2 separate regions of the Homo sapiens genome follow, and region 1 is linked to region 2. Evidence: fine-mapped expression QTL. A gene starts in region 2. The other region holds a variant in brackets. All regions are shown on one strand. Distances are between the middles of the regions. Region 1 holds the start of LGI3 (leucine rich repeat LGI family member 3). Region 2 holds the start of PDLIM2 (PDZ and LIM domain 2).

What was found. PIP is the estimated chance that this variant, and not a neighbour inherited with it, causes the effect.
Region 1: its variant is fine-mapped to the expression of PDLIM2 in liver (GTEx, PIP 0.97).

The regions. Positions count from the first base shown.
Region 1 is chr8:22,156,124-22,161,481 of GRCh38, reverse strand. LGI3 (leucine rich repeat LGI family member 3) reads left to right here and starts at 4,676. Exons shown (of 8, transcript NM_139278.4): 1 at 4,676-5,145. The coding sequence starts at 4,940. It also overlaps a transcript of SFTPC not described here. RefSeq lists a cis regulatory region at 4,571 and an enhancer at 4,499-4,643. The variant A/C (reference allele first, on the strand shown) is at 2,052.
Region 2 is chr8:22,577,699-22,583,056 of GRCh38, reverse strand. It overlaps PDLIM2 (PDZ and LIM domain 2), which reads right to left and starts at 2,582. Exons shown (of 9, transcript NM_001368120.1): 1 at 2,360-2,582; 2 at 1,527-1,678. The coding sequence starts at 2,452. RefSeq lists silencers at 687-981, 2,546-2,635, 3,366-3,525, 3,536-3,625, 3,726-3,795 and 1 more and enhancers at 656-1,348, 4,122-4,815.

The DNA.
Region 1 (5,358 bases), 420 kb after region 2:
TGTGGCTTTCCTTTTTCTTCTACCACCCTGAACCTTTCAGGTGGCCAAGGGTCTGACCATCATATTTCCCAGCAGAATTTCTAGATACATAGGGATGCGCTCCAGGAAGAGGGTTCTGGAGGCAGCACCTGTAGACTCTGAGAGGACTCTGCCCAAGGCAGGAGGTGCTTTGACATCAGTTTTCGGGGTTTCATAAATGTGCATTTCCCTGCAAGGACCAGTTCCAACTTCAAGTACTCTTTCCCTTACCTTGCCTCCTCCCACATATCTGGTACCAACCTCAAACTTGCCCCCAGTGATTATTTTCCTAATTCTGGAAACTCTGTCCCCACTGGTGGCAAGCTCTTACTCATGTGCAGTGCTTCCTTCTTTGCTCTGGGCTTGTCTGTCAATTGCAGGCTGTGCTGATGGCAGATTCCAGGTCTGACACTGCTTTCTTCTGCCCGGACAGCCCTGAACAGGGCTGGCTCTGGTCACTGGTGGGCTCCCAGTCTCCCCATCCTCGAATCAGCTCACTCACCCTGTGGTCTACACTCTACCCCTCTAGACTCCCCTTTCTGCATCCTCTGATCCTAAATTTGCCCTGAGAATAATACTCACCCAAATACGATCAGCTTTGAGGACTGTCTCCTTCTCTTTTCTCTGTCTTTCCTAGTGCCTTCCCAAAGCCATCTCTATGTATTTACGAGGTCAAATCTGCCAATGACTTTGGGCTGGCTCACCCTTTCTCTCAGGTTCCCTTTCACTCCTTGGGCCAGGTGGTCTCTAAAGTCCCTTCACCTCTAAACTCAGGTGACTGTGGCAGAGTCCAGGCCTGGGCTCGCTCCCTTAACCTCCTATCCTTTTGTTTTGTTTTGTTTTGTTTTGTTGTGAGACAGGGTCTCACTTTATCACCCAGGCTGGCATGCAGTAGCGAGATCACTGCTCACTGCAGCGTTGACCTCCTGGACTCCGGTGATCCTCACACCTCAGCATCCCAAGTAGCTGGGACTACCAGTGCATGCCATTGTGCCCAGCTAATTTTTGCTTGTTTTATAGAGATGAGTTTTCACCATGTTGCCCAGGCTGGTCTCGAACTCCTGGGCTCAAGTGATCTCGGCCTCCTAAAGTGCTAGGATTACAGGTGTGAGCCACCATGCCCAACCAGCCTCCTGTCCTTTAACATGCCACCCCAGTTCCTGTCCCCTGCCCCAGCCCCCTCCCACCTGGGCCCTGCCCTTCGGTCATGAGCTGGCAGGTTCCCCTGTCCCCCTCTCCATCTGGAGGGCCTTCAGCCCCAAGGTTGCATAACAGCATGGCATCTGAACTGAGAGCCCCTGAGAAGCGCAGGGAGGAAGAAAGGGAGGGAAGTGTTTGCTCCCACCACCCTCCTCACCCCCTTGCTGCCCCTTTAAATATTTGCCTAAGACTCCAGCAGCCAGAGAGTGTCCTAGGACAGTGAAAGGAGGGGAGGGGTGCCGGGAGGAGGGGGAGCCCACAGAAGCATCCTCTCAGCTCGGCCTCAGCTGTGTGCAGGTGCCAGATGTGGGAGACAGCTCGCCTGCAGTGCCCACCCCTGCCCTCCCCCAGGGCCCTTACTCCCGCCCCCATCATCCTGGCAACATTGGGATTGATCGGCTGACTCACGAGTACTGGGCCTGAGCCAGGTGGGCAGCTGGCCAGCGGGAGAGCCAAGCACTGCAGGCATCTCGGGGTCCCTGTGGGCATCTCGGGGGGCCATGTTGTTCTCACGTGGGACTTGTTCTTAGCAGGCACTGTGGGTGGGGTTTGCCGCCATCGCTGGGTGCTGGGAGAGGGATCTCTTTCTTTGAAAAAGCCTCTGCTCTTTCTGGTCCTTGGTCTCCCCTGCCTGTTGCCCTTAGGCTGTAGCTGTCACAAGCTCTGTGGCGGCTGCTGCTGCTGCTTCTTCTCCTTCTTTTTTTAAACCCATTTTTGCTTGCTTGAGGGCTGAGGGAGGGTGCCTGCCTCCTGGAGTGCTCACACCAACCAAGTGAAGGTCTTGGGTTCCTTGGAGAAGGAGACACAGAAGGACCTTTAGCTGGGTGTGCCAA[A/C]TTTCCCCCTCCCCCTACCAGCCCTGTCTGCAGCCTTCTCACTTTTTGGCCTGTACTTAAGCCGTTTCTCCCTCTGTGAAAGCCCACCTCCAATCCCTCTCCACTTCTCCGGTTTTATTTTTATTTTATTTATTTAATTATTTAGAGACAGGGTCTCACTCTGTTACCCAAGCTGCAGTGCAGTGGTGCAATCACAGCTTCATAGCTCACTGCAGCGTTGATCTCCTGGCCTCGTGTGATCCTCCTACCTTGGCCTTCCAAAGTGCTGAGATTACAGGCGTGAACAGTGCATCTGACCTTCCACCTCTCTGAATGCCACCCACCCAAACAGGCCAAGAGCCAATGGCACCTGCTCTGCGACCTCACTCCAGTTCATGGTGCCCTCTGAAATCCTCAGCCTCTCTGTGGCACCTTCACCTGCCATTCAGCACACATGAATGTTCCCATGAGTTACATGGGCGCTTTTTGTTGCTCTATCTTCCAGCCCAATTGCGGGCCCTGGGAAAGAAAGGAGCACGCTTCCTGCGGGCTTCTTTGAACCTGCCACTGGGCAGGAAGCATGCAAACAGCCAACACTTAATGATAGTCAATGATGAGACCAATACCAACAGCGGTCAATAGTCCATGCCTTCAGTATGTGGAGGTCTCAGTGCTTCCACTGGCCAGCTCTGGGACCCAGCGTGAGTCGTTCTGCTTTGTTAGGCATTAGTATGTTCATCTGTGAGATGGGTCAGGTACTAGCTGTCCACCTCACTATGCTATTATGAGGACCTAATAGCATCATGGGTGTGACATCCAGTCATCCTCATTAGCATCATCTACTTCATCCTCTAGGGGACCTCTCACTAGCTAAGAACACAGCCCAGACTCACCCTCTTTGTCTGTTTCTGGGTTGACTCCCTCTGAGAGCCCTGAGTGATGGACAGCCCCACGGTGGCCACCCCTTCTGTGTGGGCCTCCCCGTTTCCTCCTCCAGCCCCTCAGCTGCAGGGGTGGGGACAAGATTCACTTTGCTCTTTGTGTACTGGGCAGAGCCGTGCCAGGGACGGGTGGGGACAGTTGCCCAGCTGCCCCAGCCACCTCCCTACCCTCACTGCTTCCCTCCCCCCAAGCTGGCATGGGGAGGGCGGCTAAATGTGTGGCAGCAAGGAGACATCAAAGGGCAGGGGCATCCCTGGCTGGGAGAACACAACTTAAGCTCAGACCAGAGAATCCCCTGCTGGCAGAGTCTGGGGACAGCTGGGGAAGCATCTTAAAGCCAGTGGTCTTCGTTCCCTGGACTGGTGTGCAAAAAGCACAAGACTAGAAGCCCAGGCAGCTGACAGCCAGGCTCCCCTTGCCCCGTGCCTATGAGCTCTTAGGACAGTCATCCTCCGCCACAGGGGAGCTAACGTGGTAGAGAGCAGCAGTCTTCAAGCTTTTTGTTTTCAGGACCCCTTAACACTCTCAAAAAGTATTGAGGACCCCCAAGAGCTTTTGTTTATGTGGGATATGTCTGTTGATATTTACTGAGAAATTACATTTTTATTTACATGTGAATTTAAAATATCAGTAATAAACCCAATATAGGTTATGACATAAATCACATTTTTAATGGAAAAACGATTTTACAAAGCAAAATTATTTTACAAAGCAAAATAAAATTAGAGAGAAAGTGTCATTTCTTTACAGTTTTGGAAATCTTTTAAATTTGGAGCTTCATAGAAGTGAAAAGGGCAAATCATGTCTTAACAATATTAGGAAAATTGTTTTTACCTCAGAGACTTCCTGAAAGGTTCTCAAGGACCCCCGGGCTCCCAGGGCTACACTTGGAAGAGCCGTGCATGGAAGGACGACCGTGAACCTTGAAGCTGGGCAGAGTGGGCGGAAATCCCTGCTGATACCTTTTTCTTCTGGTGCGACAGGCCTCACTTTTCTTGTCTGTAAAAGGGAATTACTATCACCTGCCTCAAACGATTGAGAGGATTAAGTAGGGAAAGTACAGAGCACTTGCGATAGCAAGCTTAGGGGGCCTCAGTTTCCTCATTTGTTAGACAAAGGGCTGGACTGAAAAATATCCAAAGCGCTTCCCAGCTTTAACAGGCTGTGGTTGAGCGTGAGAAATGTTCCAGAATTCCACACAGTCCCACTCCAGCTCCAGAGGCTGCGTTTCCCTTTTCAGCTCATGCTGACACAAAGGTACATTCTGTTCAGCGGCGCGTGGAAAAACATGTGAATCCGGTTAGAAGCGCACTTCAGACTCCTCCAGGACGCCCTTGTGCTTCTAATCTTGCATGCTAACTTAGATATGCGTCTGTCACTCACGACATGCCCATGATGCTGCCTAGGGGATGTGTCCCCCCATGCAAAGAAACCCAGGTAGACAGAAGCACAGGGATCCCTAACGCCGAAGCGCCTCCACAAGGCAGTGAGTGCATGTGCCCGTGCAGAGACAGGTGAGCACCGGCGCGCACAGTCGTGCCCAGCAGAGGCACAAGCACAAGCTCACACGCATGCACTCACGCGCAGCCCCACACGCGGATGGCCCCAGAGACCGCCCGGTAGAGCACACAGCGGCCACGCCTCCCCTTCCGTGACTCCCAGGCCCCGCGCCGCCCCGCGCGCGCCCCCGCCGCCCGCGCCGCAGTCCGCAGCCACCCGGCGCGGTCAGCCCCGGCTGCGGCTCCAGCTCCGCGCTCCGCTCTTCTCTCCCGAGCCGGATCGCGGGAGCGAGCAGGGGAGGGGACCGCAGCCGGCGCCCGAGGGCAGGAGGAGTCCGCAGGCGGGCCCCTGGCTGCGGTAGCAGCTGCCGGTGGCAGGGAGGTGCCAGCCCGCGCGGGGTGGCCCAGCCGCGGGAGCGGTGGGGCGGGGGCCGCGGCCGCCGGCCCCAGGGAGAGATCGCGGGCAGCATGGCGGGGCTGCGGGCCAGGGGGGGCCCGGGGCCGGGGCTGCTGGCGCTCTCCGCGCTCGGCTTCTGCCTCATGCTGCAAGTCAGCGCTAAGAGGCCCCCCAAGACGCCCCCCTGCCCGCCCAGCTGCTCTTGCACCAGGGACACCGCCTTCTGCGTGGACTCAAAGGCGGTGCCCAGGAACCTGCCCTCGGAGGTCATCTCCCTGTGAGTGTCCAGCCCTGGCCTTGGGGGTTGGGGAGGGAGAGGAGGCCGAGGACAGCTCTGGGAGAGGACAGGAGAACCCCCGCTCCCCCTCTTCAGAGTGCGGGGACCAGGGGGACTGCAGGGGTCCTCAGGGCTGGAGATTCCAGGCACCAGTCGGGCAGGGAGTTCTGCAGTTTTGCAGGCTCAGCGGCCATGGGTGGGGAAAGCAGGAGT
Region 2 (5,358 bases):
CGCTTCCTGGGAGAGCCATGGGATCAGGGTGAGGAGAGCTCAGTCTCTGGCTCCAGCCTGGAGCCCTGCTTCCTGCCCCAGGGCTTCTGAATACCAGAGAGGTCACCTGGGAGGGTAGGAGGCGGGAGATGGGGGCGGGGGGGGGGGTGGGCATCACGTCAGCAAAAGTAAGGAGACTGGGCCGGGCGCGGTGTAATACCTGTAATCCCAGCACTTTGGGAGGCTGAGGCAAGTGGATCACGAGGTCAGGAGATCGAGACCATCCTGGCCAACGTGGTGAAACCCCATCTCTACTAAAAATACAAAAATTAGCTGGGCGTGGTGGCACGCGCCTGTAGTCCCAGGTACTCAGGAGGCTGAGTCAGGAGACTCTCTTGAACCCGGGAGGCAGAGGTGGCAGTGAGCCGAGATCACGCTACTGCACTCCAGCCTGGCAACAGAGCGAGACTCTGTCTCAAAAAAAAAAAAAAAAAAAAAATTAAGAGACTGGAGTCTGGGCTTGCCTGGTGCAGAACCAGAGGCCTGACTTACAGCCCAGGCCTACCTCCCCCGAGCCCTGGTCCCTCCAGAGAACCCCAGAGGAAGAGACAGTCCGAGGCTCCTGCCCTTCCGCTGCCAGACCCTCAGCCTCCTGTAGCTTTCTGCCCCATTCCCAGATGCCATGAGGTGCTCTCTACCCTCCTTCTTGGGGTCCCGCTCCTGCAAACACCCAGGGACCTGAATGACATGAAGGGAGCCGGCTTCTGCCACACCACAGGGCAGGGCAGTTGGAGAAGGAGGGGCTTGGTAGGGCTGAAGAGAGCAGGACAATGTGGGGGTGGCCAGGATGCAAGAGGTGTCTGACTCAGGTTCTAGGCCCGTGCAGAGGGCTCTCCTGGCTCGGGGATCTCCTGGCATTCCCGATCTGTGACTCACTGCAATGCCCCACCCCAGGGAGCCACCTGTTCCCCCTATAGCTTGGCCTCCAGGCCCCACCCTGGCCCCACCTTGGCTTATAGGCTCAAAACCCTAGGAGTAACCCAGGATCGGGCATCTGCCTTCAGTGATGGGGAGGAACAGACAGCCTCTATGAGGAATGAGCCCCCCAAGTCCTCACTTCCAGCTGGGAACTAAACAAAGGCCATGCCCTGTTGGAAGCAGGAGTCCTGGGGATGCAGCCTCGGGCATACCTTTCCCAGAAGGTTCCCCTCTTCAACCCACTTCATGCCCACGCCCTGTGCCCTGCACACTCTTGGGAACCAGTCAAACCCGGGCTTCAAGGTGGCTGGTGCCAGCTCGCCCTGCCCAGCCTGTGACTGCACGCCCAGCCTGGCGCCCACCTTTACCCAACCAGGCATGGGAACACCCCTCAGCCCACCCTGCTGCAGGAAGCAGAGCCCAGGACCTTCTCACCAAGGTGTGGAGAGGGCCCAAGAAGGCCGCTTTAGGGCTGAGCTCTAGCCCATGGGCAGGAGCAAGGGCTGCTCAATACGTGGGGTGGTGGAGGAGGGGGAATGCCACAGGCTCTGCAGAGCGGGAGGCCCTACCGGTCCAGCTGCAGCCGCAGGGGCGAGGGGCTCTGGCGGATCTTGCTCTGGGCCTCGGCATGCAGCATGCCCTCCGCGCTTTCCCCGTTGATGGCCACGATTATGTCTCCAGGCCGGAGGTCAGCGTCCTTGGCTTTGCCCCGCTCGGCCACCTGTAGGGATGAGGAGCTGGCATGCTCAGACCGTGGCCCAGCTGGAGAAGGGACTTCCCACTCTGCTACCCAAGAAACACAGAGGCTGGCTTGACCCAGGCCGGCCTGCACCCTCCTGCATGTCCCTCTGCCTGCTCATGACACCCAGCTGATCAGCCATCCCCTCCAGGAGCGCAGGTGGCAGCCCCCACCCCACACTGGCATTCTAATGGGCCTCCCAAAGAATGTGCAGTGGCAGAATTTCAGGAACTGTGCTTGGAAATACTTTTGGATAGAGAGCCTTGCCCGTGCAAATCGCACCTTGCAGGTGGCTGCCTGCACAGCCCTCCTGTGAATGTTCCCAGCCTGGGCCCAGGTCAAGAGGAGACTGCCAAGAACTCCGGGGCTCTTGTTCTAGTAATCACCCCAAATGGCTGCCTGCAAGTGTGGGGATAGCAACTGGGGAGGCAAGAGCCGGCCCTGTCCTGGTCCCAGCTCCCTTTCACTCCCAAGGTCTGTTCCTGAAGTGGCCACCACATCCCCGTGGCAAAGGGCCACGGCTCCCTTACAGCCAGCACGCCAGGCAGCAGCAGATCCCTAGCTCCAGAACAGAAAAAGCAAGCCATCTGTGCAGAGTGGGGTGAACAGGGCCGACCTCGCTTCTGGCAGGACCTTCTCATCTCTTTGAGCCACCATCCTTACCTTAGTCACCATGATGGGCGTGTGGAAATCCCTGCCCCCTGTGATACGGAAGCCCCAGGGCGCTGGCCCGGCCACATCCACCGTCAACGCCATACCTGAGGAAGAGAGGACCAGGAGGTGAAGTCCATGCCCCTAGCCGGCTCTGGGGGCACTGTAAGGCAGCAGGAGAGGAGCCAAAGGGAGAAGGAGAGGGCACCACAGCTCCCGGAGCAGCTACTCAGGGGCTTTGGGGTGGGTAGAGGAAGTGGCTAACTCCCTCCCTCAGCCCGGTTTCACTTCCCCCCACCCTGGGAAGCCATGCTTCTGGGTTCTCCCTTCCTTAGTCTTCAGCCCAGGGAGCGACTCCCAGGAGGGGGCTGCCCAGGCTGCCAGGCAGGGGGCTTGCTGGAGCATGGGGGGCAGGGGCTGGCAAGTGGAGGGGATGCCAGCACCCCCTCAGTCTCCCCTCCTCCACCATCAGGGCTCAGTCCCACTAGCGCTTGCTTCCTGTCCCCAAAACCCACAGCACACGGTACTTCCTCTCCACTCTGGGGGAGGGCTGGTGAGTGGCCTAGGGAGAGCAGGGCTCAGGAAGCAGGAGTGACGGGTCAAGGAACAGGCTGGCACCAGTACAGACTGTGTAAGTCACTGGCCAGGTGAAGGACTGGTGGGGTGAGGCCGAGTCTTCACATGGGCCTCCTAGCTGCCCACCTCGTTCTTGGCAAAGTGGATCACACGGGCAAGACCGGGCTCCCCACCTCCCCCAGGGGCCGGCTGCCAGGGCAAGGAGGCCAGGGTTCATCTGTCAAGCTGGACACACCCACCCCCAGATTCCTGATGCTGCCCGACAGACAGCCGGGGTGACAGGCCTCCCATCCACAGCCCCTCCGCTGGGCAAGGAAGTGCCCTTGCAGACAGACCCCTGTGGGATTTCCTGAGCCTCTAGCTCTGGAGCCAGGAGCCAATCCAGGCAGGAAGCCGCGGTGCCAGGCTGGGCACCACCCTGCCCAGCACCCATCCTGGGGCTGCCCTGGGGACGCAAGTGCTGCGAGAATCTATCAAGAGCACCAGCGGTCTGTCCGCTCCATCCCCGGCTGCCTTCCCCTTGGGCCCAGGCCTAGCCTCTGTTCCCAGCACCGCCCCCACCCCAGTCCCCGAGGCCGGCTCGCGGCCGCCCCGAGATTCCCAGACCTTTGAGCCGGTCAGTGGACTCCGCGCTGCGGGCGCCGCGGGGAGGTGCCCAGCCCGATGGCCCGGCTCTACCAGTTCTGGAGCCTCCTTCGCTCCGAGGGCAAAGTACCCTGCGGGCTGGGGGCTGGAGGAGGAGCGCTCCGGCCGGGGAGAGCGCAGCTCGCGGGGGCGCCCCCGCTGATGCGAGGCTCCAGGGAGCTGGGCCGCGGACGAGGCCAGGGTTCCGCGCCGACAGGGGCGCGGAGAGGAGCCCGGCGCCGGGGAGGGCGGGCCGCGCGGAGAGGCGCAGGTGGGCGCGCTCACCTGGCTGCCGCTCACCTGTCCGGCTGGGCGCCCAGGCCCGGGAGGGAGGGAAGGCGGGGAGACGCCACCGCTCCCGCTGCCGTCTACCCGACTCTGGGGAGAGCCCGCCCGGGGCTCCCGGACCTGCCTCCGCCCATGTGATCCCGGGGCCGCCCCTGCCGCCGCCCCTAGCCCGAGAAGCCGCCGCCTCCGCGCGGCGAGCCCAGGCGCTGCCACCTGGCCCGAGCCCGCCGGGGGGATGAGGCAGGCTGTCCCCAGGGCCCCCTGCAGGCTGCGACCGTCCAGCCGGTGGTGCCCGCATCCTCCCCGGAGCGCCCGCAAGCCCCCGACTGCCCGGAGCACAGCAGAGCCGGTCCAGGGACTGCCCCGCGCCCCACTTCGCAGACGATCGAGGGGGCAGCCCCATAAAGCTCTCCCACGCCGGCCGCGCTCTCCCGCCCCGCATCCCCAGGTCCTGGGCAGGGTGGGCTGCCTGGGTGTGTCTGCGGTCCGCCTGGCTCCTCCACCCACTCCAGGCTGGGAGGCTGGCGCAGATGCGGCCTTGACACCCACAAATCCCAAACCAAGGCCACCCTCCTGCCCGCCAACTCCCTTCCTGAACGCTGGCTTCTCGGCAGCGCAGAACTTCTCTGCCTGGAATGCCCGCAAAGGGGGACCCGCAGGGGCCCTAGGAGATGGAGAGAGCCTCCTGGCTAGGGGTTCACTGGGCACCCCCACCCCTGGGCTGGTACCTTCCCGTTCCCGTGGGCCCTCACCTCATCCTCTCTGCAGGTCTTCACCCCGCTTCCTGCCCCCTCCCTTGTCCTCTTTCAAGCACCTGAAGCCCAGGCTATAAGGATGAGGAGAGGGCAGCCAAGGAGGGGACCCCGGTGCCAGCTCGGGGAGGAGAAGCCGTACCTGGCAACCCTCTCTCCGGGGACCTCAAGGCCATAGAGCCGCCTCTCGTTGGGTCTCCACTTGGCCTCTGGCTGCCAGGCTGCTGTGTTTTCAGGGGATCACACCTGTGGGCGCAGCTGTGCCTCGCCTGCCTCAGGTGTGACTCATTCCCTCCACGCTCACTCTGTGAAGAGTGCCCTCCCCACGCCCCTCACCTGTCTGTGCCCGCGTCTCAGCCTCCTTGCGTTCACACTCTGGCCCCCCTCCTCCCACAGACCGTCCTGGGTGTGTGTAAACTCCTCTCCCACGGGCTGGTCTCCGGCCTCCCGGCATGACCGCCTGGCCTGACGTACCTGCTCTGCCTCCCTGACTAGACTGGAAGCCCCTTGAGGGGAGAGGCAACTACAGGCAGGGTGAGCACAGCCCCGGGGGCACACAGACCTAGCCCCAAGTGCACAGCTGCGTCTCACCGGCTGTGTGACCTTCAGCAACCTCCTCGGCTCCTCCGGGCCTCAGTTTCCCCATGTGGAAAATGGGGATAATGTGCTGCTTACCGTCTTGTTGTAAAAATTGCTTGGCCACAAGCAAAAGCCAAGGATGGCACAGAGGTGTCAAACAGAGTCCCTGCCTCAAATGGGGTGGGGACTTCT